Homo sapiens: one gene and its partners. The protein of the gene in region 2 binds, or shares a complex with, the protein of the main gene of each other region. Each region holds a gene or a part of one and is shown on either strand. Other genes may lie near its edges.

What was found.
Region 1: the proteins of H3-7 (region 2) and SPIN1 are in contact, whole or in part, in a crystal structure (PDB 4H75), measured with the Homo sapiens proteins. Residues at the interface, in NP_001342338.1 of Homo sapiens: Ala2, Arg3, Thr4, Lys5, Gln6, Arg9; in NP_006708.2 of Homo sapiens: Gly93, Phe94, Asp95, Cys96, Tyr98, His139, Met140, Phe141, Glu142, Thr143, Lys148, Asp149, Trp151, Tyr170, Asp173, Val175, Tyr177, Tyr179, Gln180, Leu181, Asp183, Asp184, Asp189, His252.
Region 3: the proteins of H3-7 (region 2) and TRIM33 are in contact, whole or in part, in a crystal structure (PDB 5MR8), measured with the Homo sapiens proteins. Residues at the interface, in NP_001342338.1 of Homo sapiens: Ala2, Arg3, Thr4, Lys5, Gln6, Thr7, Ala8, Arg9, Lys10; in NP_056990.3 of Homo sapiens: Asn886, Glu887, Asp888, Trp889, Cys893, Asn895, Gly896, Gly897, Asp898, Leu899, Leu900, Cys901, Cys902, Glu903, Cys905, Val908, His910, Phe921, Pro922, Ser923, Gly924, Asp925.
Region 4: the proteins of H3-7 (region 2) and ING4 are in contact, whole or in part, in a crystal structure (PDB 2VNF), measured with the Homo sapiens proteins. Residues at the interface, in NP_001342338.1 of Homo sapiens: Ala2, Arg3, Thr4, Lys5, Gln6, Thr7; in NP_001121054.1 of Homo sapiens: Tyr198, Ser205, Tyr206, Gly207, Glu208, Met209, Ile210, Gly211, Cys212, Asp213, Trp221, Phe224, Lys232, Pro233, Arg234, Gly235, Trp237.

Annotation. Positions count from the first base shown.
Region 1 is NC_000009.12:88,383,995-88,391,466, forward strand, and holds the start of SPIN1 (spindlin-1), read left to right. Parts: upstream 1-4,449; 5' UTR 4,450-4,544; intron 4,545-5,117; exon of another isoform or gene 5,118-5,205; intron 5,206-7,472. UniProt on the Homo sapiens protein: Chromatin reader that specifically recognizes and binds histone H3 both trimethylated at 'Lys-4' and 'Lys-9' (H3K4me3K9me3) and is involved in piRNA-mediated retrotransposon silencing during spermatogenesis.
Region 2 is NC_000001.11:143,904,999-143,909,950, forward strand, and holds H3-7 (histone H3-7), read right to left. Parts: upstream 980-4,952; 5' UTR 969-979; coding exon 558-968; 3' UTR 512-557; downstream 1-511. UniProt on the Homo sapiens protein: Core component of nucleosome. Nucleosomes wrap and compact DNA into chromatin, limiting DNA accessibility to the cellular machineries which require DNA as a template.
Region 3 is NC_000001.11:114,508,182-114,515,575, reverse strand, and holds the start of TRIM33 (E3 ubiquitin-protein ligase TRIM33), read left to right. Parts: upstream 1-4,372; 5' UTR 4,373-4,499; coding exon 4,500-5,025; intron 5,026-7,394. UniProt on the Homo sapiens protein: Acts as an E3 ubiquitin-protein ligase. Promotes SMAD4 ubiquitination, nuclear exclusion and degradation via the ubiquitin proteasome pathway. According to PubMed:16751102, does not promote a decrease in the level of endogenous SMAD4.
Region 4 is NC_000012.12:6,660,111-6,667,638, reverse strand, and holds the start of ING4 (inhibitor of growth protein 4), read left to right. Parts: upstream 1-4,519; 5' UTR 4,520-4,537; coding exon 4,538-4,574; exon of another isoform or gene 4,575-4,591; intron 4,592-7,528.

The DNA of each region.
Region 1 (7,472 bases), on a different chromosome or scaffold from region 2:
ATATAACCACCCCTCATGCCTTTGGTATCTCTTCCTTCTTCCACTCCAAATCACAAGCATATTCATCCTTGGGGCAGAAATCCTCCCAAGTAGGAGCCCAGGAACCCAGAGTTAAAAGACATATACATCTAGTATAGGCCAAGGCTTTTATTTATTTATTTATTTTTGAGACGGAGTTTCGCTCTTATTGCCCAGGCTGGAGTGCAACGGCGCGATCTCGGCTCACTGCAACCTCTGCCTCCCAGGTTCAAGCGATTCTTCTGTCTCAGCCTCCCGAGTAGCTGGGATTACAGGCGCCTGCCACCAAGCCCGGCTAATTTTTTTGTATTTTTAGTAGAGAAGGGGTTTCACCGTGTTGGTCAGGCTGGTCTCGAACTCCTGACCTCAGGTGATCTGCCCACCTCTGCCTCTCAAAGTGTTGGGATTATAGGCATGAGCCACCGCGCCCAGCCGGCCAAGGTTTTTAACATGCCAATTTGTATTTAATAAGCTTGCTATAGGAGGAAAAATATATGTAGAACCTTTGATCCAATCTCTAGAAGTTGAGTATGGTTGAGAAACTGCAAAGAAATTAACTATATGCCAGGGTTGGTGGTGCATGCTTGTAGCCCCAGCTATTCAGGAAGCCAAGGTGAAGGATGGACAGTTCAAGCCAGGCCTGGGCGAAATAGCAAGACTCCTTCTCCAAAATATAACAAAAGCAAAATAAAAGAAATTTGCTATATAGGTAAGTTTCTCAAAACATTTCATTAGCAAGTTGGAGGACAGCAGGAGCTGCCTGGCAAGTTGAATCAATGGTCTTAGTATCCTAGAAATTCATAAATTAACTTGAATTCTATTTTTCCAATTTTTTATTTTGAAAAGTTCGTTTTCCAGAAAAGTTGAAAAAACTGCACAATAACACACCTAGACTCATCACTTAGATCCACCAACTATTAACAGTTTGTTACATTTGCTTTACCTCCATATAAAATACATCAGTCTCTGAGGCATTTATATGTCAGTTGTAGCCATCAGGTCTCTTGTCTAATGATTCAGCACTAACATCCTAAGAACTAGGGCATTCTTGTAAATAGCCACTGTCACACTGAAAAATCTAATGATGATACAATAATACTGTCTAATATATAGTCCATATATAACTACAAAGTTCCCCAGTTGTCCCTCAAATCTCTCTCACAGCTTTTTTGCCTTCAATGCAGTGCTGCATCAGGGGTCACTTAATGGACCAACCCAGTTGTGTTATCTGTCTGGACCAATTCCCTAGCTTGACTTTTTTTAGAGTGTAGTGCAGGGAAATTGTTTTGCTGAATGTCTTCCAACCTGGATTTTTCTTATTTTTTTTTCCAACTTTGATTAGATTCACTTAAACATTTTTGGCAGCTATACATGGGTAATATAAAAACCCATTTGTGACATTCTAATGAGCTAATTAGCAAGGCCTTAGATGCAGCTGAGATATGTACCACTCTAGAGTGTGACCTTTACTGATATAGGGCTGGGTGACATTACTGGACTGTGCATTCTTTTATTTTTAATTTTTTTTTTTTGAGATGGAGTCTCACTCTTGTTGTCCAGGCTGGAGTGCAGTGGTGCAATCTCGGCTCACTGTAACCCCTGCCTCCTGGGTTCAAGCGATTCTCCTGCCTCAGCCTCCTAAATAGCTCGGATTACTGGTGCCTGCCACCACGGCTGGCTAATTTTTATATTTTTAGTAGAAATGGGGTTTCACCACGTTGGCCAGGCTGGTCTAGAACTCCTGACCTCAAGTGATCTGCCTGCCTCGGCCTCCCAAAGTGCTGGGATTACAGGCGTGAGCCATTGCAGCTGGCCGGCCTTTGTTTCATTTTAAAAAATTTTATTTATTTATTGTACAGTTGGGGTCTTGCTATGTTGCCCAGGCTGGTCCTGAACTCCTGGGCTCAAGCCATCCTACCACCTTGGCCTCCCAAAGTGCCGGTATTACAGGCATGAGCCACAATCCTGTGTATTTTTTTTTGAGATGGAGTTTGACTCCGTCACCCAGGCTGGAGTGCAGTGGCACAGTCTCGACTCACTGCAAACCCTGCCTCCTGGGTTCAAGCGATTCTCCTGCCTCAGTCTCTGGAGCAGCTGGGATTACAGGCGTGCACCACCACGCCTCGCTAATTTTTGTATTTTTAGCAGAGATGGGGTTTCACTGTGTTGGCCAGGCTGGTCTCAAACTCCTGACCTCAAGTGATCCACTTGCCTCGGCCTCCCAAAGTGCTGGGATTACAGGTGAGAGCCACTGTTCTTGGCCTTTTTAAAATTTTTTAAAATTTTATTTATTTTAGAGTTGGGGTCTTGCTATGTTGCCCAGGCTGGTCTCAAACTCCTGGGCTCAAGCCATCCTCCAGCCTCAGCCTCCCAAAGTGTTGGGATTACAGGTGTAAACCACAGTCCTGTGTATTCTCAATAGCTCCCAATGAGATCATCACCAGTGGCAAATTTTAAATCAGGGGTTGGGGATGGAGATGAAGGTGGGGCCACATATTTGACTTTGAAGACGTTTTCCGTGAATTTTGGAGGAGTGTGTGTGCTACTGGCATCTAGTGGGTGGAGGCCAGGGATGCTGTCAAACATCCTACAAAGCATGGAACAGACCCCACATGAAAGGATTATCCCATCCCAAAAGCCAACACTGCTGAGGTGGAGAAACCCAGGGATCTCGCCAATGAGATGAAATCTTCCAACCAGCAGACTTCTTGGCACCTACCTTCTTCCCATCCCTCTTTGTTTCGGAGATGACCCCACTGCAAGACATTAAACAGGCCAGGCGCGGTGGCTCACGCCTGTAATCCTAGCACTTCAGGAGGCCGAGGCCAGCGGATTGCTGGAGGCCAGGAGTTTGAGACCGGCCTGGCCAACATGGCGAAACCCCGTCTCTACTAAAAATATTTTTAAAAATTAGCTGGACATGGTGGTGCGCGCCTGTAATCCCAGCTACTCGGGAGGCTGAAATGTGAGGATTGCTTGAACCCAGGAAGCGGAGGTTGCAGTGGGCCGAGATCATGCCACTGCACTGCAGCCTGGGGAACAGAGTGAGACTCCGTCTAAAAAAACAAAAAAGACATTAAACACACAAATGAAAGTGAGTAATTTCTCAACACTTGGTAACTTGTAAGTACAGCGATACACTTTTATATCTCAGTTTTGAAATTAGCTCTCTAGTTGGCCTGTGAACGTCCCATGCCTGCCAAGTGTGTCATCTGAGACAAGCACTTCAATTTGTTTGAGCAGGCATCTATCAATCTTATTTGTTAGAAAAGGTGCCAGTGAAACCCCAAAGAGTATTGCTAACTAATAACTGTGCTGCAGTTTAGAGTGTTCAAGGTGCTTTCCAGTAACATGTTCTGGAATTTGATCTGACAACGCTTTGGGAGGCGGTTTATTACGATGAGGCTGCGCTGTCGCACTCGAGGAACCAGGTCAGTGACCTGCTCCAGGACACGGGACTGGCGGGGAGGGGAGAGCGCCTGGACTCAGCCTCCAAGTCTCGCACTCGACTCTGCAGGAGTAAAAACTATTCTTGATCCTACCTCTCTCCCTTCTGCAAACAAGCAACAAAATGCTGAAAAGGCATCTTAACTGAAACGGAAGTCAAATGAATTCGCGTGCGATCATGGGAATTTTTGGCTCCTAACCTTGCGAGTAGAGCTGGGTGAGTTCCATTTGTGGTGGGGGAGTGGAAACAGGTTTCTGGGCTTGCAGAAGCCACATCCCGTCCCCACACAACCTAGGACAGGCCAGGTACTTGTAGGTGAGGCTCCGGGGCTCCAGCTAACCTGAGCTACCTGGGCTGGGCTTTGTGCGGGGAGGCAGCAAGCGGGGTGAGCCGGCGACGACGCCGGCCTCTACGCAGTGCGGTGGTGAAGACGTCTCTTCCAGGGAGTCACAGGAAGCAAATCCATCCTTTTAAAGGGCTCGCGTCCCGCGGCCCTGAACCGGCGCGCTGGAGCAGTAATGCGACGTTCTCCGAGGTTCAAGGCTCACGGCCCAGCCCTGTGATCCAGTTTCCTCAGTCTTCGCGGTGTGCACCACTCAGGACGACTTGCGGCTTACGTCCAGGACAAAGGGGGCTTGTCCTTTCTTCAACGTCCTACTGCGCAAAAACGAAGCCCTTCTCAGGCTGCCTGCCTTCCAGGAAAAGCTGCGCCCCCTCAGGAACCTGTGCCCCGCGCGCCTGCCGCCGCCCATTCCCGGCGCGCACCTGGCAGTCCCGGGCTCGAGCCCCGCCCTGCCGCCAGCCAGGTGAGAGGGGCCAGGCCCCGCCCTCGCCGGCCCCGCCCCGCCCCACTGCGCCTGCGCAGTCGGCCGTCGGCGCCAGGCGCCGGGGCGGCGCGGCCGTCGCAGTTCGGCGGGCGCAGTGCGCGTGCGCCCTGACTGTTGGGGGGCGGGCGGCGTCCGCGGCGAGGGAGCGGGGGCGGGGAGGCGCCGTCTGGCTCAGGCTGGGGCCGGCGGGAGCGCGAACGAGCGACGGCGGAACCCGTGGGCCTGTGGACTGCAGCCTCGGCGGTCAGCAGGTGAGGCCCGCGCAGGGCGGGCGTGGGTCGTGAGGGAGTGCGGGCTGCGGGCGGGCCAGCGGTGCGGCGGTCTGCCCGGGGGCGCAGGTGAGCGCGGCCCGCGCGGGGCCCGGCGGAGCATTGTCCAGCGGGCGGCGCCCGCATAGCGCCCCCTGCCGGCTGGGCCGCGGCGGGGACCCGGGCTGGGCGGGCCTGGGCCTCGGGGCGGGCGCGCGCTCCTTTGTTCGCCGGCCCCTACTCCTCCGTGCCCCCATCCCCGCCGCCCCCCGCCAACATGGCCGCCACCCTCTCGTCCCCAGTTCCCCGGCCGCCGCCGGCCCCTTAGCGCGCGCTTTGTTTGGAGCCGGGCGGGGAGGCCGGCGGGCAGGGGGCGGCGGCGCTGCGCAGTCGGGCGCGGGGAGGGGGCGCTGCGCCAGAATGCAGGCGGGGAGGGGGAACGTTGCATAATCCCGGGCCGGCGACGGGGGCGGGGCGGGGGGAGGGGCGGGACCCCGGCGCGACGGGTCGGGTCACCCCGGGGACGCGGGCCTGCCCTGGGGCCACCCCTCCCAGGCCCGGGGGATGGCCGCGGACCTTGTAAGTTGCAGGCTCCGCGGTTCGCGGCGCCGGAACGCCCACCGGCCAGTCCTCGCGCCCGCGCAGCCCCTTTCCTGATGCGCCGTCTCTTCGCCGCCCTCCGTGGGGGCGCGGCGAACGGGTTGCGTGCTCTGGAGAGAGACAGGCACTTTTCCTCTCCATCGTGAGTGACCTTGGGTGTATTCGTCAAGGAATGTGTTGAAACGAATTGTGCGATGCGGGAACTGCGCAGCGCCTCGGGTTTGGCTTTCTCGAGCATTTTATTGCATTGATTGTGCGTTCTCGATTTTACAGAGGTTCGTTTTGAGTAATGGCTTCAGTAATGTCATCGTATACGCATTTCAAAGTTTGTTTATGGAATTGTTTTTACATTTATTCTCTTTTTACTTATAATTTTTGAATCAGATTTTGTGTTTTGGAGAGATTTTCCGTACGTGGTGGAAGTGTTTTCACTCATGGTAAATATGGATTGTTTGGCAATTTTATCACGTTAATCACAAAACAATACCAGGAACATTTAAATGTCTTAAAGGATTTCACTCTACATGACTTGTGCCAGAGACGACACACGTACCAAAACGCGATTACCTGTCTTAACTTTTTTTCTATTGGAATTTTCTGGAAGGAATTCCATGCAATCCGAAAGGATTAATGGAGGGTACAGTAATTGCTTTCTACATCGCTTTTGTTAAGCAGTGAAAATTAAACTTGGAGATTTATACCTGGATATACTGAGTTTTTTTTAACACTCTTTTGAAGTGAAATTTTGGAAAGGGCAGGTGAAATGAGGCTTCTTCCAACCTCCCCACTCTCCCCCCTCAGCTTTAGTTAAAAGGCAAACACCAAAATATTGTAGTACCTGGTAATTTACAGAACGTTCGTTATCAGATTTGATAATTATATATTAAGGTTGTAAAGAATGTGTATGCCAGAATTATAGGTAGTAGATCCTAGATTCTTAGGAAAAATAGTTTCTTTATAATCTTTTGAGTAGTGAAATGGTTACTTTTACAATGGTTATGAACTGGGTCAAGGCAAAAGGGCCACTATATGTCTTCAGTCATCTTTCTATGCCTGAAATCCAGGAAACAGTGAAAATGGATGTTCCCTGGAACAGCCATTGCGATGCCATATGTTGGTCATTGGTGTCCTTAAAGTGTATCTCAGATAATTGTGTGTCTCCCTTACTTGTGAACTGAGGGGTCACAATATTGATGTGCCTGATGTGTGCCCCTCTGCATTTCGTGGGTAGTGTCTCAAATTTGGCTATCATATTGATGAGAGTTACTAATTTGGTTTTAGCTGCCAGAGGTTTAGGTGGTTTTCACTTCCAGTGACTTACCTGATTGCACATAGTTACAACGTTACTGGTTGCACTCCTTCATTGCTAGCATCTTTTTTCTAGTATATTCGATATACATTCTTTTGGTTTATCCTTTAAAATATTTGCTGAGATAGCATTTAAATGTTAATGCTGTATTTATATTTGTTGGATGCTTAATTCAATGTGTCTTCTTTCCCTTTCCATGAATGAAAAGAAATTGGAAGAAGAGAATCAACTATTTCGTGCAAGTATTTTGTTCAGTTTAGAAGATGTTATGGTATTGTGAAAACAATATTCTGGAGTTAGACATGGAATCACAATGGCCTTCCAAGTCAGAACAGTCTGGGTTGAAATTGACTCCTTACTGGTCCAAAGCCACATAACTGATTCATCATGCAGCCTTTTTTTAAAAAAAGTTTTTTTTTAAAGCTACTCAAATATGTCAGTTTTATTTTCTCTGTACACACATTTGTTACTGAAAATTGCAAAAACAGCACATTGAAGGTCCTCTTATTGGAGTTCACATTTTTGAAAACCAGAAAATTTAATAATTATGCTCTTGCCAAACTACCCACTGTTTTCTTTATATTCTTGCCCCACAAGTTGCTTTACTTGAACTCTTGGGTTGGGCTTCATCTCACTGACTTCAGGCTTCTAACACACATAGGACACTTAGGACCTACTGGCTCTTTGGGTCACATCAGGGAGGAGAGCTGAAGTATGTTGAAGTTACTCAAATACATTCAAGCTACATAGATCTCTGATAAATTATTGGTGGTATGGTAGAAATGAAAATATACCCAAAAAAATCACAGAACTGTTTATTAAAATTATTGGTATACAGGCTCTTCTAACATAGATTAGCTTTCTCAACCTAATACATAAAATTACCAGCAAGAAAAAAAAAGTACAAGAATGACAGTTTATGGTTGAATTGGCTTGGTGTCATGATTCCCTGTTGTAGCATTCTCAGGCTATCTATGATAACAGAAACTGCAGCCACATTTGAATGGTTCCCTTCTTGATTC
Region 2 (4,952 bases):
TTCTATACTTTGTGGAAATTTTTTTCTCTTCCTTGAAATACTACCTCACCCACACATTTTTAAAAATCGCCAGATATTTACTCCCGCCCGCTTAAATTACTATTCTGGCTTGGACACCGCCTGTAGTATGCAATGAGGAAGATGCTGAGCTTTAATTAAGCTTATAGTTCCTAAATAAACCAGGAAACGAGTTTATAATTTTTAAGGGACTCGCCCCACCCTTACACTCAGGATCTTCCACATCTAGAAACTCCCCATAGTCTCTTGCCCCCATGCAAAACTTTACCCACAGAATTGGGAGCCGGACCTCTAGCCTTAAACCAGCGTGAAAAGGCTCGGCCGGAACCACAAGGACCATGCCTCTGCGGCTTTCTCTACTGCCGGCCAACTCACGGCTGGGCTTTGGGTTCTGTAACGTCACCCACCACGAGTGCCCCTGGCCCCTGACCGCTGCGCAAGGCAGACGCACATCAGATGGAGAGCCGGTACAGCTGCTCTTGATGAAAACGGCAGTGGCTCTGAAAAGAGCCTTTAGATCGACCACTTAAAAATATACCTTAGGCCCGCTCCCCGCGGATGCGGCTGACCAACTGGATGTCCTTGGGCATGATGGTCACGCGCTTGGCATGGATGGCGCACAGGTTCGTGTCTTCGAACAGCCCCACCAGGTAGGCCTCTCTGGCCTCCTGCAGCGCCATCACGGCCGAGCTCTGGAAGCGCAGGTCCGTCTTAAACTCCTGCGCGATCTCGCGTACCAGCCGCTGGAAGGGCAGCTTGCGGATCAGCAGCTCCGTAGACTTCTGATAGCGCCGGATCTCCCGCAGAGCCACGGTGCCGGGCCGGTAGCGGTGCGGCTTCTTCACCCCGCCCGTGGCCGGCGCGCTCTTGCGGGCCGCTTTGGTAGCCAGCTGCTTCCTCGGGGCCTTGCCGCCGGTCGACTTGCGGGCAGTCTGCTTAGTACGGGCCATGCTGTCTCATTGATACGAGAGGGTCTAGGCAGTCGTATTTATAGACATAGCCTCCTCTTGATTGGGCCTGAAAAGGAAATTTTCAAACTTGTGATCTCATTGGTTAAAATTCAGTCCTCTTTACTGGGGCGGAAGATTGTTCTGCTAATCTTTCTTCCCTTATTATTTCCCCCTTTCCTGATTTTTTTCTGTAATTTTATCGATCACGGATTGCTTTTGAAGACTTTCCTTTAAATTAGTCTAACTTTTGTAAAAGCAATGTATAAAGTGTTTTGCATCCCATTTTAACAGAGATTTTTTTTTTTCCCCGAATTCAAGCATGCCCTTCTATGAGCTATCAGCCTGTTTCAGGTTACCTGTTACTGAAGCTCTTCTACCATAGCTAACATTTATTTCATGTCTAGCATTTTGCTCAGCAAGTTAGATGCATTGTATACCATGAATGACCGAAGCTTAGCAAAAAAATATGTAATTGAAGGAATGAAAAAATTGATCTTATTTACTTGACCTTGGAACCCAGCCAAAGCCATTTCATGTGGGTAGTGTGCTGACCTATATTGACCTGATATTAGAGCCTCTGCCTTCCTTTAGTCTTTTCTCCCTGCGATGTGGTTCCTTCTTCCTCACCCTCACATCAATGGCCAATTAGGTCCTGCAGATGTTAAGCTTCTAAATCAAAGAAGGACAACACCAGAAATTCATTTCTCCTTTACAATGTAGAATAGTTTGTAAATTAGTGCTAATTAGCCAGATTACAAGTTAAAGTTTCAAAGCAAATTATTCATCAATTGCTGACTTGCTAACATTTTATTCAATAAAGTATTTTATAATGCTTAAAAGTTTAATATTTTTTTCTGTTCTCTATGAAGAGAGTAAAGATGCTTTGCTTTTTCAATTTCATGTGCTTTGAAGTATGTATTGTTCAGAACAGTAAATATAGTGGTTATGTAGAAGCAACTGATACTTAAAAGTTGTAGTAGTTAATATAAAACTTTTAATCATATGCTTATTTTACTAAAAAAATCATTACAAACTATAAAAACTCAAACCTGAGAAAAGCAGGCCCGAAACGCTTAAAACTTACTTTGATGGTGTCATTATGAACTATCTTCCTACTGAAGTCAAAGTAAAGTAAAAGTGATTTCAAGGGGACTTCCTGAACACTAAACACAAAGTAGAAATCTGTGAGCTTAATTAATATCTTCAAGAGTCTCTCATGGGCAGAAGCATCCTCCTCTCGAGAGATCTAAAATGTACAAAAGTGTAACTGATGTGAACAAATGTTATCCCTCTCTGTGGTAGTTTTGTAATAATGCCTTACAGACAGCAGGCACTACTCAGTGTTTAAAGTTCTTCTACATACACTTTATCATTTAATCCCTACTCTGTGAAATAGATCTTACTCTTCTCACTTTACAGATAAGAAAACTGAGTCTCAGAGAAATTATGGCTTGTCCTGGGTAAGTAACAAAGCCTGTGTAATATTCTAAAGCAAAAGAATGAAACGGTAATGATGAAACTTTCTATTTCATTAGGCTTAGAGGATACCTTTTTTTTTTTTCATTTGAGATGGAGTCTCACTCTGTCACCCAGGCTGGAGTGCAGTGGTAGGATCTCTGCTCACTGCAGCCTCCGCCTCCTGTGTTCAAGCAATTCTCCTGTCTCAGCCTCCTGAGCAGCTGGGACTATAGGCGCAAGCCACCACCCCCAGCTAATTTATTTATTTATTTGTATTTTTAGTAGAGACAGGTTTTCACCATATTGGTCAGGCTGGTCTCGAACTCCTGACCTCAGGTGATCCACCCTCCTCGGCCTCCCAAAGTGCTTGGGTTACAGGCATGAGCCCCACACACCCAGCCAACACAGTTTAAAGCACAAAAGCGTTTTCCCATCATGCAATCACATCATCTAGTATTTCTCAAACATCTACACCCAACTATTCCCATTAGAAGGGAAAACTACCCCATGGAATCTGGATGATAGCCCAAAGCAGCCCACCCAAGCATCACTTTTCTTTGCAATATACTTTCTCTATGATGTATGCAGTCTTGACCATAATGTAGGATGTGTTCATTTAAATAAGAAAATGGCATTCAATCAGACTTTAATGGCTATAGGTATCATTTCTCAGAATAAAACAATCAGATGTATAGTTGCCTTAAAAGTCATCTTTAATAACAGAATTCAGATCAATTGTTAGTTCAATTTCACCTAGTCCCCACATTGGACACTAGAGTGACATTTCTGTGAAAGGTCTCAATCCACCACTATATCAGAAGCAGCTTTATGGTGCAAAAGAAGCTCTGCTTTTCTTCAGTTGTAACAAAGACGGAATATTCCTCCTAAAATTTTTGAAGTGTCCTTCAGCAGAAATTATAAGGCTGTGCAGCTTGAATACTGAGAACAGAAATTTCATTAGGTAGCACGGGGGAATAGACAAGAGAAGATTAAAATTTACCTAACAAGAAATAAGCAGGCAAAAGAAAATATTAATAAATGAATTATTAGGCACATAATGTTTTGTATGTACATGTGTTTACTTTTAATACAAAAGTAACGGACTAAGTTAACATAGATGTTCCAATAAGATAATTTATGTTTCATTTTTTGGCTTCAAGTATCCTCAGGGTTATAAGTATCATAAGCTGAGACCGGCTGAATTGGTTTGTGGGTTGATGAAGCCCTATGCCTGATTTGAATTTCTCTTGAATGGTCTGCAGCCCTGGACCAAGTTGAAGAAGCCATGAGAGTCTCAGCTTTTTTCCTTACCCCATTATGAGATAAACTCATTCCTTAAATATCTTGCTCATTTGATAAAACTTGGCACCCTTCTCCTTTCTACTGGTCCCTGATACTTACTACCTGTACTGTAAGCTCAAATTTTTTACAATTTCTGCCTTTATTATGTAACGTATTCCACTGGAATATGTGTTACAGGAAAGGGGTCCCGATCCAGACCCCTAGAGAGGGTTCTTGGATATCCGGCAAGAAGGAATTCAGGGCCAGTCCATAAAGTGAAAACAAGTTTACTAGGAAAGTAGAGGAATAAAAGAATGACTACTCCATAGAGAGAACAGCCCTGAGGGCTGCTGGTTGCCCATTTTTATGGTTATTTCTTGATTATATGTTAAACAGGGGTGGGGGAGGTGGACCACGCCTATAATCCCAGCTACTCCAGAGGCTGAGACAAGATCATTTGAACCCGGGAGGCAGAGGTTGCAGTGAGCTGACATCGCTCCACTGCACTCCAGCCTGGACCACAGAGGGAGAATCCGTCCCCCGCACCCCACCCCCCCAAAAAAAATCACTGCCAGTAAGGAACAAACAGCCAAGACGAAGAAGTACTAAGATGTAAAGAGATGTAAAATAGGCCGGGCGCGGTGGCTCACGCCTGTAATCCCAGCTCTTTGGGAGGCCTAGGCCGGGAGATCACGAGGTCAGAAGATAGAGACGATCCTGGCTAACACGGTGAAACCCCGTCTCCACTGAAAATATTTTTTTAAAAAAAATTAGCCGGGCGTGGTGGCGGGCGCCTGTAGTCCCAGCTACTCGGGAGGCTGAGGCAGGAGAATGGCATTAACCTGGGAGGCGGAGCTTCAAGTGAGCCCAGGTCGCGCCACTGCACTCCAGCCTGGGTGACAGTACGAGACTCTGCCTCAAAAAGAAAGAAAGATGTAAAATACTGTGATACATTCTGCAAGAGTTATGACAGAGTCAGAAAGGGGCAAGCGTGTTTCTTCTCTACCCTGAAGCAGCCAAGGGAGAAGAAGGTATCTGTTGCCAACGCTGGGGTGTTACAAGTGCACACTGTCATGCCCGGCTAATTTTTTGGATTTTAGTAGAGACAAGGTTTCACTGTGTTGCCCAGGCTGGTCTCGAACTCCTGAGCTCAGGCAATCCACCCGCCTAGGCCTCGCAAAGTGCTAGGATTACAGGCGTGAGCCACCACGCCCGGCCTATATATGCATATTTTTTTCTAACACT
Region 3 (7,394 bases), about 29 Mb from region 2:
CTGTTCAAATGTGGTGTTTATTACTAGAATTACAACGTGCCCCTGAAAGGCCTTAGAGACACAGAAAAGCCAATAGATAGTAATTAGACTCAGAACTCTGCTATCTGTCCTGCTTTTCTTGGTACTAATAGTTCTCACTCAGACAACAGAGTACCTAGAAGTCAAAGTGTACTTGGTACACCATGGAATGATGAGAACTAAACTTTACATTATTTTTAAAATTTGTATTAATAAATTTTTTTTGTAGAGATGGGGGTCTTGCTATGTCGCCCAGGCTGGTCTTGAACTACTGGCCTCCAGTGATCCTCCTGTTTTCCTCCAAAGTGCTGGTATTACAGGTGTAAGGCACCACACCCAGTTGAGAAGTGAACTTTAAAAGATAAAATGTCACCTTTAGATCCTCTGGCCTCACCCATTGGTGAGTGCAAGTATTGTACATTTACAGAAATATCCCAGATTTCAGCTGCAGCTCAGCATCCTTCTGCCGGTTCTCATGTACTCTTCTGTTCCTGCTGTTCAGCATGGCTGCTCTGTCCAGAAGGTGCAGACCAGCCTTTGCAAATCTTCACGCTACCCTTGGGCTACTGCCTTGCTTTTGCCAACCTCCTGTGCCCAGATGATGGACACATCGTGTTCTCACCATTGCTTACCTACCTGGGTCACTCACCTCCAATGCCCTTTCTCTTTCCTAGACAACTGGAAAACTCCTTCCACTATTGTTTACCAGCAACTTAGAGGAGTTTTCTTCATAGCAGAACTGCTATGAACCTCCTAAGAGCTCTTTCCTTTATTTCAGAACTGGTTTTTTCTGATAATGCTCAAACCAGAGGAACAAGGGATAGTAGCCTAGGTCAGGAAAATGGCTGGACACAGCCTCTACCTCTACCTGCTGCTCAGTTTGGGCCACAGCATGATTCCTCTTCTTGAAATTTTCTCTCAGTGGCATGTGTTTCTCCTGCCAGTTCTGTTTCCTTCAGGGAACTTTGGGTCTACTTTAACATCCATGTTCACCATGTGCTGGGTGCTGTTATTAACGTTTTACAAATATTGTTTGTGAGGCAACCTTGAGGTAGGTCCTACCCGTAGCAAACACCCTTTCATGACTGAGGGAACTGAGGCAACCTAAGTAAGTTTCCCTAAATCACATAGCTAGTAGGTGATGGAACCAGATTCAAACCAAGCATTTTGTCCCAGGGCATAATGAACCCCATGCTATGCAGTCTATTAGACAGGTTTGTGCATTATCGTATCTCAGCCTCATCTGTGGACTTATTTCATAGTTTCTCCTGCAAGATTTCTGGGCTCCCACAGAAAATCAAGGATGTAACTGGGTCTGTTTCAATGATCCTAAATATTTCATGAGTTATACTCCAGGCACTGCCTTCTCAGAGCACACAGTGAACTTCATGGGGGCTGTTTCCATCCTATACAAATTATATAGTTTTCAAAAACAACACTTTTATTCTAGATTTTAATAAAGGCAAATGTAGCAGGCATCAAAAGGTTAAGAAAACTCATGGAAGCAAAACTTTTGGTTGAGAAATTCAGTTCATTAGCTTATTTTTTTGAAGTGAATTTGAGAAGAAGTGTTTATGATTTATACTCCATATTTTTCACCACCTTTACAGATTCTAACCTGATCCAACCAACCGAGTTATTACCCTATTAGCCCCTTAACTGGTCTTCCTTATTCCACTGACCATTTACAGGTGATTCCTCTAGGAAGCAGCCACAGTGACTCTTTTCACAATTCTGCTTTGAGTCTTTGCTCAAAACCCATCCAAGCCTTCCTATCTGACTCAGTGGTCCTAAGGCTAGGGTATGAGTACTCCTGGGGTACTTCAGTGAAGGAAAATTTTCCAAGGGGTACATAAAAAAGTAAGGGTAGTTTTAAGGGAATTACTCCATCATATATGTGAGTGTGTAGATACATACATGTATACATATATAGTTTTTAATGCAGTAAAGACTGTGGCAATGAAAAATGGAGTTGATACAGGACCTTATCTCATTCTAGCAATGTTATATGCATTCATGCCTACTCGAAATAATTAGGGGAAGGGGGAAGACTCCCAGCCATATCATTAAAACATTCCCAATACTTTTCCATGTTTAAAAAATATAACATTTTAATATACTTTAAAAAATGGATAGTATTAAGCCACTTTAGTGTTTACTTCCCTATTAGATTAAAAATAATTTTTAAATGTCAGTATTACAGAATGTCACAAATTAAACTCTGCAACTATTTAAACTTCTGAAAAAATTTAGTCAACTTACAATGTTTGAGGAAAGAAAACAGCCTTCCAAAATTCTTTCAAAGGGCACAAAAGTTAAAAAAAAAATTGAAGACCATTTCTGTACATGACCTGGCTCCCTTAATAACTCTCTTATCTCATGTCCTACTATTCTCTCCCTTGTTCAAGCCACTCCAGCCACACTGACTCCTCCTCTAACAAGCCAAGAATCCGTTTCCCTCAGGCCCTTTGCACTTGTTATGTGTTCCTCTCCTGCTCTTCTCCAAGACAGGTTCCTTCATCTGATCAACAGGGGCCTTCTTCAATCACCTCTAACCCCTTTTACCCCACTTATTCTTTTCTTCACAGCACTTACCACTCCCTGGCATGTATCTATTCTCAATCTTTTTCTCTATTAGATTGTAAACCCCTTGAATGCAGGGAGCTCCTCTGTTTTGTAATCCCAGTGTATCTCTAAAACACTATGACAATAAAGAGGTCAGGAAACATTTTTGAATAAATTTTAAAAAGTTTTCAGGAGGCTGGGCGCAGTGGCTCATGCCTGTAATGCTAGCATTTCCAGCGGCTGAGGCGGGCCAATCGCTCGGGCCCAGGAGTTTCAGCCTGGGCAACATGGTGAGACCCCAGCCTCTTCGAGGCAAAGGGAAAAAAAAGATCAGCTAAGTCATGGTGGCGTGCATCTACGGTCCCAGGTAATTGCGAGGAGCACGGCTTGAGCCTGGGAAGTCGAGGCTGCAATGAAATGTGATGACGCCACTGCACTCCAGCCAGGGCGACAGAACGAGGAGGTCTCAAAAAAAAAAAAAGTTTTCACGTGGTTTAAGGACTTACAGCACCTTTCTTGGGAACACTAACAGGAGACCAAAGCATTTCATGATCTTAACACTAAAACAGTTGTTGCACTACATAAAATCCTCCAAATACCTTTTTTTTTTTTTCAAATAAAAAGGCAACTTTCTGAAAGCTTTTCTTTTTTTTTTGAGACGGAGTTTCGCTCTGTCGCCCAGGCTGGAGTGTAGTGGCGCTATCTCGGCTCACTGCAGCCTCCGCCTCCTGCCGGGTTCAAGCCATTCTCCTGCCTCAGCCTCCTGAGTAGCTCGGATTACAGGCGCACGCCATTACACCCGGCTAATTTTTATATTTTTAGTAGAGACGGGGTTTCACCATATTGGCCAGGCTGCCCACGAACTCCTGACCTGACCTCAAGTGATCTGCCCGCCTCGGCCTCCCAAAGTGCTGGGATTACAGGCGTGAGCCACTGCGCTTGGCCTGAAAGCTTCTACTACCATTGTTGTAAGGGCATTTGTCACCCAGCTCAACCCAGGACACTTAAAGTGGGACCTCAGAAGGACGCAGTATTGGTTATATCCGTGGCTCTCCAAACTGACATACATAAGAATCAGCTGAAGGGACTTTTCCCCCTCCGTCGGCTCTCTCCCTCACTTCCTGATTCAGGTCTGGGGACTGGCCCTGGCATCTCTGCTTTGAAAAACTCCTCCGTTGATTCTGATACGTAGCAACTCCTGAGAATCACCTTAAGATGCCAAAAATAGCTGTTAAAGAGTTTCTTCCTCACTCGGTCTTTTCAGCCTATTTCTGATAGATCCTCAGTTCAAAAACAAAAAGCAAAAAAAAAACAAAAAAAAAAACCAAAACCAAACAAACAATAAGCCCCGCTTTAGTGCTCCACGGCCACCCAAAGGAACGCGGCTGGTCTACGCACAGCAGAGACCCAGGAGGTCCCGGCGATCGAGCGGCGCGGCAGGTGAAACTTCCGCGGAGACGCCCGGGACACGCTCGCAGGGACCGGAACCGTCCCGGCTACCACCCTTCCGTATGCACCACCGCTGTGTCGGAGTTCATAACCAACCCCAGCCAAAGGCTACCCAGCGTCAACGGCCTCTGGCTTTAAAAAAAAAATCTCCCTTCGGGTTAAAGAGCCGCGGCACTGACGCAAGGAACTGGCTTCGAGGGTCCGGGACCGCTCCGCGCCCGCGAACCGAGTTCCCGCCTCCCTCGGGAGGACGTCCGTGCGTACGTGCGCGTGCCGCAACCGCCCTCCTTCAAACGCGCGACGCGAGGGCGGGGGCGCCGCGTGCGCGCGCGCTCTCGTTGGTTCGCTCTCTCGCTAGCTCTCGGCTGCCGCTCTTGCTGCGGCTGCGGCTGGGGCTGGGGGCGGCGGCGGCGGCGACGCGGGCGGCGGGCGGCGCGGGGCGGTCCGGCGGGTTCAAAGAGGAAAACATGGCGGAAAACAAAGGCGGCGGCGAGGCTGAGAGCGGCGGCGGGGGCAGCGGCAGCGCGCCGGTAACTGCCGGGGCCGCCGGGCCCGCCGCGCAGGAGGCGGAGCCGCCTCTCACCGCGGTGCTGGTGGAGGAGGAGGAGGAGGAAGGCGGCAGGGCCGGCGCTGAGGGCGGCGCGGCCGGGCCCGACGACGGGGGGGTGGCCGCGGCCTCCTCGGGCTCGGCCCAGGCTGCTTCATCTCCTGCGGCCTCAGTGGGCACTGGAGTTGCCGGGGGCGCAGTATCGACGCCGGCTCCAGCTCCAGCCTCGGCTCCCGCTCCGGGTCCCTCGGCAGGGCCGCCTCCTGGACCGCCAGCCTCGCTCCTGGACACCTGCGCCGTGTGTCAGCAGAGCTTGCAGAGCCGGCGTGAGGCGGAGCCCAAGCTGCTGCCCTGTCTTCACTCCTTCTGCCTGCGCTGCCTGCCCGAGCCGGAGCGCCAGCTCAGCGTGCCCATCCCGGGGGGCAGCAACGGCGACATCCAGCAAGGTGAGCCGGAGGCCCTGCCTGGCATCTGGGCCGCAAGGGATTTGCGCAACCCTAGAGGAGCTGGGGACGGAGGTGCTGGGGCCTGGGGCTGCTCGGACGGGCGCCATCCCGAGGGGTCTCTAAGGTGAAAGACTCGCCCCTGGGACACTTTCCAGAGAAGCTGGACCGCAAGAGATAAGGGGAGCATGAAGGGAGGGGTGCCGGCTGCGAGAGGCTGGGGGAGGGGACACTGGCTCCGAGGGAGGGTTTGTGATGTGCGGAACCCGGCCGAGCGCTGGTTCTGGAGCTGGCAGACCCGTACAGTGAGAGAAGGGGGATTTGGGAAACACGTTGTGAGGAAGCGTTTTGGCTGAAAGGGCCCGGGCCAGCGAGGTGTTGAGGGAGTAGGTAAGAGGTAAGGGCAGTGAAGATGGATTGCTTTGGAGGGAGGGGACTTGGCGTGTTCACAGATAGGAGAGAGGAGGACTATGGATTAAATGGAGGTGGAGAGAATATGTTGGAGAGCAAGGGGTCCAGAGAAGGCGCCTGGAAGAAAATTGTAAGATGACATGGGGAAAGAGAAACTCGGAAAGTGGACTGCATGGTTAGGGAAAATCCTAAGGTTTGGGGATGAAGGAGAAATGAACTTTGAAGGAAATTGAGAGTTAGGGAAAGCTGGGCATGAATTTGTTTTAGCTAATTGGCCGTTAATGAGCCCCTAGTGTTGGGGCACTGTGCTAGGATTGAATAAAGTACTCAATGAAGACTTCATTCACAGTCTAACAGGAGAAACATATAACTTGCAGCAGTGGAGGTGAGTCCTCAGTACAATGGTTGTGGCACAATAGAGGAAAGGTCAGGGAAATTTCACAGGAAAGGAAATCCATGAACAGGTTTCTTGAAGAATGAGTACCTCACTGGGTTGGAGGGTATTCAGGGCACAGGACACCCTTCTACATCCCTGGAACTAAAGACTGTGTAGGGTGATTGGTGGAAATTAGATTGGATTGATGGGCTGAAAAGATAAAGGTTTCACAGTCTCTTAAACTCTTGGGATCCAGGTGTAAGGACTTCAGAATATTTTGGGATTTTTCTTTTTTCTGGCAAGGTCTGTTATGTGAGACTTTTATCAGGGTCTGAGTTAACTCTATCAAACACGTTAATGTTTCTACATTGAAACACGTGAATGTCACGCTAATGGGATAGACGATAAATAACCTCCCAGCATTCACAGTGGGTTCTGTTGCAAACCAATGAAAAAAATTAAAATTTCAAAGCTTTTGAATTTCGGGACTGTAGGTAAGCGATTGTGGAGCTGCACTAAAGGGCTTGGAATTCATCCTGTAGAGTGTATCCTCGACATTGTGGACTGAAGGATGTTCCTGGAGGGCTTTCATATCAAGAGGATAAAAGGATCAGATTTCTGATCCAGAAAGATCACTTAGGGCACTTGAGGGATGAGGGAAGGCAAGGCTGGAGACAAGGAGACCAGTTAGGAGAATCCTGGCGGTTATCTAGGAAAGAAATCAACATTTGGAATGGGTAGTAAAGGAATGATATATCAGGTATTACAGAATGAAGCATTTTGGTTTGGGGGAACGGTAGGGTTTGGAAATCTACTTTGCCATCTCCTACTTACGACTTGGGCAGATGACCTTTTCTTAGCTTCAGTTTTCTCATTTGTGAAATGGGAAAAAAGTATATAACCTCATAGGGTTATTGAGAGAATGAAGTAAGATAAAATGTGTAAAGTGATTAGTACGTGGTAGTTACTAATGAAATGGTAGCTAGTATATTAATAGTAGTAACTAATAGTGGCTATGGGAATGGAGGGATGGGGGGAGTGTATTGAGATTGGTGTGAGGGAGACAAACGTAGAATTCCACATTTTTTGTTTGGTGGATGGCAATGCTATTAATACATATTCAGACACTGAAGCAGGGCTGGGGTGAGGGTGAGGGCTGGGGTGTAGGGAGGATAAAATGTTTTCAGATTGGGATGTTTTGGGTTTCTAGCATTATTGGTACATGTAGGTAAGAATGTTAAGAGTAAGGCTTTGGTTGTTGGAGAAGCTACTAATTGTTAGTAGGTGTTCAGAGAATAACTGCTGGTGGTCTGTGCACCCATGACCATAGTAAGACACATAGGATTCAGTGTTCTTGTGGGAACCTGGGTTAGGTAAGAGATTTAGAGGGAACCCAGAAATACAGATTGTGTTTGACTGATGTGGCTGAGGGACTGAGGTTATGAAATTGGCTCTCTGAAATTTATGAAGGAGAGAGAATAATATGTAAATCCCCTCTTCATTTCTTTATCCTTTCTTTTTGAAGGAGGGGGAGTAAGTGGAAGGGACTAACCAAATGCTGTCAATCTTAAGTAATATTTCTCTC
Region 4 (7,528 bases), on a different chromosome or scaffold from region 2:
AGTCCTTTTCTTCCTTGACAGGCCTTGGCTCCATCTCCTTGGGCCTCTGTCACGGCTTTCCTTCACAGGATACCATCCTTTTTCTGAACTCTTCTTCAAAAGGAACATCAGCCCTCCTGATTGCAAAGGAATACTGAGCTGATGGTGTCATCCAGCAGCCTCCCCTCCCAAGCAAAGCTTCTAAAACTGGGGGTCGGTGCTCAAGGGAAGGATTTGCTATGACCTCATAGAACCTTGTCCAGTGTGGCCACTTACCCTATCCTTACCCTCCTTATCCTCAAAGTTTGGGCTGATGTAAGACTAGAGGCTGGCCCTCCCAGATAACAGAGAAAAGGGAGCCCCAAATGCAACCAGCCTCTTGTTCTATTCTTGCCTGCAAAAGAACAGAGGTTTCTCAAATGCCTCAGTCCCTGAGAGCCATTTCTTCCCCTACATCGTCTCACTTTGCTTCCTATTGACTGCTGGTAGAAGGAGATTTGGGGTAGGGGCTAGACCTCCTTTTATTTGAAGGGGGCAAGGGCTGAGATGTGGTCCCCAAGGGGCCAGAAATTCCCAAGTTGGTCACAGGTGGCTTAGAAGTGTGTGTTATGGTTTTACGGATTTCCTTGAAGCCTCTCTCCTTCTCTGCCTACAAAGACCCTATACTCTCAGTCTCCCCAACCCACCCCCAAGGAGCTGTGGGAGGCTTTGTGTTATCTGTGAAACTCCAAAACAGGGGTGTTGCGGAGAAGGGAGAGTTCAAGGCAAACGCAAGGACTGGACTTAGCTCCCTAGGTGCCACAGTCAGATGCCGGACACGGATTTATATATAAATATATATATATAAATATATTATACTCACTCATCACGGCCATCTTTGTTGTAACCATTTCTGTGTTTATAAATGCATTATCTCTGAGAATTTTCATATTTGATGTTTTGTTTATTTTTGTCCTTTTTTTCCCTCTCTCCACCCCTGTCCTCTAGCCACAGCATTTTTCTTTTTGTCTTTTTTTTTTTTTTTTAAATCATGGCAGATTTCAGAGGAAAGGAAATTAAAAAAAAAATCAGGAAACCAGTTGTTATAAAGTAATTTAAAAATGAAGAAAAAAAGAAAAAAACTTATGTACAAACCAAGGGGTGTTTTTAGAACATTGTATAGAAATAAATTCATGTAAAAGGATCAGAGGCAGTGGAGCTACTGATGTGAGCGAGCATGCGGAAAAGGTATTTGGGGAGATGTCCAAGAACAGTACTGAGGATTTATACCAGAGTGTGTGTGTGATGAACAAGTGCTTGTGTGATGATGCCCCATTTGTGCAATTCTCCAGTCATGGAAGGGTACAGTTTCATGATGTCTCCAGTGAAATCCTGGTTTATGAGGACTTCTACATACACATTCTGTCATGGGGATTGCATTGCCTAAATATGTGAGAGCAAGGCTTTGGTTATGTGTTAACAAAACAGCTAAGCTCCCTATGGAAGAAAAATGGAAGCCTCTTGAAAGGACCTACACTCCTGCCTGAGTCTGTGGAAGAGGGGCTTGCAGTTGGCAATGTGTATACATATGTGTATTTGTTACCTTGTGGAAATCATAACCGGTTAAGGGGTGCAAGATTGATTTATGCAGGAGAGCTGTAGTACTATGGAGTAGAATGTGGTCATGAAACCTGGACTTCAGCCCTTTGCCTACCATCAACCAGTGTTGGCCAGGGTGCTTCTTCAACTGTTAGTGAAGGGATTGGACTAGATAACTCTGAAGATACCTTTTTTGAGAATTAAGTAACTTGCTTTAAGGCTGGGTGCGGTGGCTCACGCCTGTAATCCCAGCATTTTGGGAGGGCGAGGCAGGCAGACTACTTGACGTCAGGAGTTCAAGACCAGCCTGGCCAACATGGTGAAACCCCATCTCTACTAAAAATACAAAAATTGATGGCCGTGCACGGTGGCTCACGCCTGTAATCCCAGCACTTTGGGAGGCCGAGACAGGTGAATCATGAGGTTAGGAGCTCGAGACCAGCCTGGCCAGTATGGTGAAACCCCGTCTCTACTGAAAATACAAAAAATAAGCTAGGCATAGTGGTGGGCGCCTGCAATCCCAGCTACTCAGGAGGCTGAGGCAGGAGAATCTTTTGAACCTAGGAGGCAGAGGTTGCAGTGAGCCAAGATCGTGCCATGGCACTCCAGCCTGGGCGACAGAGTGAGACTCTCTCTCAAAAAAGTAAAATAAAAATACAAAAATTAGCCAGGTGTGGTGGCACGCGCCTGTAGTCCCAGCTGCAGGCTGAGGCAGAAGAATGACTTGAACCTGGGAGGCGGAGGTTGCAGTGAGCCGGGATTGCACCACTGCACTCCAGCCTGGGCCACAGAGCGAGATTCTGTCTGGAAAAAAAAAAAAAAACAAAAAAAAAAAAACCTTGCTTTAAGCACCGAAAAAGTTGTGAAAGTTGTGACCAAGCTCCCACATCCTGAGAACTCTGGGACTGCTGGCCAATAGTACTTGTTATGTAGTTGGGCTGGGATAAATAAAGCCCACTTAATTTAGTGCTAGATATCCTGTGTGGGCACCTAAGATGGTGTCTCAATATGTTGTGTAATACCAATGAATGTATCACATATGACCAAATATGCCAATGTTTCTTAGCTCCCTGCATATTTACTGCTTTTTCCTCCCACTCTCACCAACTCTTGAAAAGGCCCTAATGGCCCTAACTTCATCACCAGTATTAGAACTAGAATCTACTCTTTTTATGGATACACTCACACTCACTTATTCCAACAACCCTATGAGGGAGGTAGTAGTCTCATTGTATAGTAAAACAGGCACAGAGATCAAGTTACCGAAAAGCATGACTTTTGTAATTAGAGCAGTTTCCCGGATTCTATTGCTGTATCTTACTACCTGCACACTAGTAAACCTGGGGTTTACAGGCTACAGATCCTTTCAGCTCTGATACCCCCACCACTCTACAGCCCCTGAACCCCCTCCTCCAGCCTGCTCTTACTGTCCAGATAATGTTTCAAATACATCCCTGCATCCATCTCGAAGCAAAACAAAGCAACTTCCAATCCGCCCCGGGTTGGAAGTTCCTCTTCTCCACATATTTGGTAGAAATTATATAGCTGAAAGTCTGTCTCTTTAAAAACTTGCCGTAAGACATTGGTAATTCTTATGAAGGATGTGTGAGGGTACGAAAAGTGTGAGGGGTGGCAGCTATCTCTAAAATACTATCTTACTAACACCACTATTAGGTTATGGCCTTTGTGTTGGCAGTGTGTTGACAGCCTAGTGTGTTGGCAGCCTCTCATACCCTTGACTGCTTCCCATTCTGATGAAAACCATAGAAATCACTCTACCATAGCTGACTAGAGTGATGGCTAGCAACTAACTAGCCAACTAGCCCAGTAGTGATACTGCTGCATCCCTCAATCCCTTCAGAATTATGATGCTAACATCACATATAAACAAAAGGAAAACAAAAACACGAGATTTCCCCCTTAGAGAGTAGCAAGAGGGGCCAGGCACAGTGGTTCGCACCTGTAATCCCAGCACTTTGAGAGGCTGAGGTGGGCAGATCACCTGAGGTCGGAAGTTCGAGACCAGCCTCACCGACATGGAGAAACCCCATCTCTACTAAAAATACAAAATTAGTCTGGCGTGATGGTGCATACCTGTAATCCCAGCTACACGGGAGGCTGAGACAGAAGAATCACTTGAACCCGGGAGGTGGAGGTTGCGGTGAGCCATGATCACGCCATTGCACTCCAGCCTGGGCAATAAGAGTGAAAATTCTGTCTCAAAAAAAAAAAAAAAAAAGCAAGAGGGCAAGGCAGGAAGTAATATTTTATATGTGAAAGTGTATTCTAGTGTAACGTACAGGAGCTCTGACAAAAGATGTGCAGAATTATAGCTTTATTATGAGTCATTCTTTGTATTTATAAGTAGAAAGGTGATCATCTTTCTCAAGTTAAAAAAATAATGCTGGGGGAGATGGTGTTTGTGTGAGTGAATAGAAATTCAGACGGTTTAAATGTCTCAAGGCCTGATACTCTTCCCCAACTTCCTTAAGAAACTAACTGGCTTGAAAAAAGTCATTCTGCAAAAGAGGGAAAAAAAGTTGGATCTTCCAGTTGCTGAGAAGGTATGTTTACGCAATATGAGCCTAAAGTGAACAGTTACCCCTGCACGGATTACCATACATTCCCGTTTTGGAGGGAAAAAAGTTTGCTAGAGAATGCAAAATGGCGACCTCCAGTGACGTCATACCTGTCTCGGTCGCGTCCTGGGGTGTCTGTAAGGGCGGAAGCGGGCTACAGCCGCCTCACTGTGGGCGGTCGTGGCTACCATGCAAAAGGAAAAGTTTCAGTGTCGGGCGGATGTGTACCGGCGGTAATATAGTAAGGGCGGAAGTTCTCCTTTAAGGGCGGAAGTTCTCCTTTTAAGGGCGGAAGTTCTCCTTTTAAGGGCGGAAAGGCTTTAGCCGCAAAATGGCTTCGGCCCCTGTCGCGTTACAGTCACTTCCGGGGCGGATCGGAAGTTGCTTTGTTTTGCTTCGAGATGGCTGCGGGGATGTATTTGGAACATTATCTGGACAGTAAGAGCAGGCTGGAGGTGGGGGTCGGGGCTGCAGAGTGGTGCGGGGATCAGGGATGAGAGGATCTGTAGCCCTTAAGTTCCAGTGACGAGAAGGTCACAATTATGAAGCGGTTCTGTGGCAGGAAATATTGGAGGGTGCGGAGAAAGAGGGGGCGGGGCAGCAGGATCGAGGCCCCGCTGATGGGTGTAGACGAGGGAGGGGTGCGGTGTGGGGGTTAGAGACGTGTCTTGAAGGGCTAGTGTGCATGGCCAGGAAGATAGTTGCTGCCCCCATTCTCCAGGGTCTCCAGCCTCGGTAGATTTTTTTCCCCATAGTCGTTCAGAATCGTTATCACACACTGCCATTTGGAGAAGCGGTAAAGACCTCTCCTCCACTCCATTCTTCCTCAAAAGTGGCTTCTCATGGGGTTGAGAGTGGTGGTGATGAGTGACCACTGTCAGATGATGAACTAGAACGCTTCTCTTCATGGAGTAAAGATCTAATTCCCATCAAATGAAAATCTGGTGTTTATGCGATTTATGTAAACCACCCCTGCAGAAAGCCTATTGCTCTGTGCGCTTACATTTGTTTTAGGGCCCGGAGTCATTTATTCAACAAATATTTATTGAGGTCCTGCTATGGGTCAGACATAATGGCAGGCACTAGGGATAGAAAAATGAGTAAGACAAGGCTCCTGCCCTCAAGAAGCTCACGATCTAGTAGGAAACAGATTCTGCAAATAATTATAAAACACTGTGACAAGTGAGATAATGGAAATACATTAAAAAGGACACTTGGTAGGCAACCCTGGAGAAAAGGGGGGTAATTACCTGGGGATGTAGGAAAAGCTTTACAGCGGAGGTGATGTTTGAATAGGGTCTTGAAGGTTATTTGCCAGTGAGGAGAGAAAAAAGGAATTCCAGGTTGGGGAAAGCATCCGCAAAGGTACTGTGATGGGTTTGTGGCAAGGTCAAGGGTGTTTGATATTTATGACTCAGAGGTCAGCGTATTTGATATTTATGAATCTAAGGTAAGAAATTGAGAAAGGAGACTGGAGAAAGAGGCTGAGGCTAGATTGGACAAGGTCTTTTAAGCCAAACGAAGAAGTTTGCATTTTAAAGTAGAGTATGATTTTTATAGAGGAAAATGACTAATATATGGTAAATTGGAGCATGATATTGTTGATAACAGAGATCAATTAGTGATAACATTCCAGGACAGAGATAAGAACCTGATTTTAGGGAGTTACAGAAGTATTTAGGAGTTAAATATGAAAGGACTGACTGAATGACTGAGTGGTTGAGAGAGAAGGAAGAATCTAAGGTGGCTTCTTCCTGCTTAGAAAGTGAGGTAGACAGGCTGGGCACAGTAGCTCATGCCTGTAATCTCAGCACTTTGGGAGGCCAAGGCGGGCAGATCACTTGAGGTCAGGAGTTTGAGATCACCCTGTCCAACATGGTGAAGCCCAGTCTCTACTTTAAAAAAAAAAAAAAATTAGCTGGGCATGGTGGCATGTGACTGTAATCCCAGCTACTTGGGAGGCTGAGTCAGGAGAATCACTTGAACCCAGCAGGTGAAGATTGCAGTGAGCTAAGATCATACATACCACTGCACTCCAGCCTGGGTGACAGAGAAAGACTCCGTGTCCCTCTCAAAAAAAAAAAAAAAAAAAAAAACAAAGGCTGGTGGCCAGGCACGGTGGCTCATGCCTGTAATCCCAACACTTTGGGAGGCTGAGGCAGGCGGATCATGAGGTCAGGAGATCGAGACCAGCCTGGCTAACATGGTGAAACCCCGTCTCTACTAAAAATAAAAAAAATAGCCAGGTGTGGTGGTGTGCCCCTGTAGTCCCAGCTACTTAGGAGGCTAAGGCAGGAGAATCGCTTGAACCTGGGAGGTGGAGGTTGCAGTGGGCCGAGATCATGCCACTGCACTCCAGCCTGGGCAACAGAGTGAGACTCCGCCTCAAAAAAAAAACAAAAACAAAAAGGCTGGGAGCGGTGGCTCACGCCTATAATCCTAGCACATTGGGAGGCTGAGATGGGTGGATCGCCTTAGGTCAGGAGTTCCAAGACCAGCCTGGCTAACATAGTGAAACCCCGTCTCTACTAAAAATACAAAAATTAGCTGGGCGTGGTGGCAGACGCCTGTAATCCCAGCTACTTGGGAGGCTGAGGCACAAGAATTCCTTGAACCTGAGATTGCGCCATTGCACTCCAGCCTGGGCGACAAGAGCGACACTACACCTCAAAAGAAAAGAAAAGAAAGTTACTCAGCGGAGAAAAGATCATGCCAACTGCTGCAGAGATATTTTTTAGGATAGGCTTAATAACACCATTAGATTTGGTAAATCACCAGTGACTCAGTCTTGTGAACTGGTGGTAGCAGACCTGAAGTTGTAGGTTTAAACAGTAGAGGCATTTTATTTTTTTTTATTTATTTTATTTTAGTTTTTCTGTTTGTTTGTTTGTTTTTGAGACAGAGTCTCACTCTGTCACCCAGGCTGGAGCGCAATGGTGCGATCTTGGCCCACTGCAACCTCTGCCTCCCGGGTTCAAGTGATTCTCCTGCCTCAGCCTCTTGAGTAGCTAGGATTACAGTGCCCGCCACCATACCCAGCTAATTTTTGTATTTTTAGTAGAGATGAGGTTTCACTGTGTTGGCCAGGCTGGTCTCAAACTCCCAACCTCAGGTGATCCACCCACCTTGGCCTCCCAGAGTGCTGGGATTACAGGCATGAGCCACCGTACCAGGCCTTTTATTTTTTATATATATATTTAATTTTTATAGAGACAGGATCTGGCCATATTGCCCAGGCTGGTCTCAGACTCCTGAGATCAAGCGATCTACCTGCCTTGGCCTCCCAGAATGCTGGGATTACAGGCGTGAGCCACTGTGCCCAGCAAGTAGAGGCATTTTTAAAGTTTTAGGTGGAGTCTTGGCAAGAGATTTCTCTTGTACTGGGGTGACAA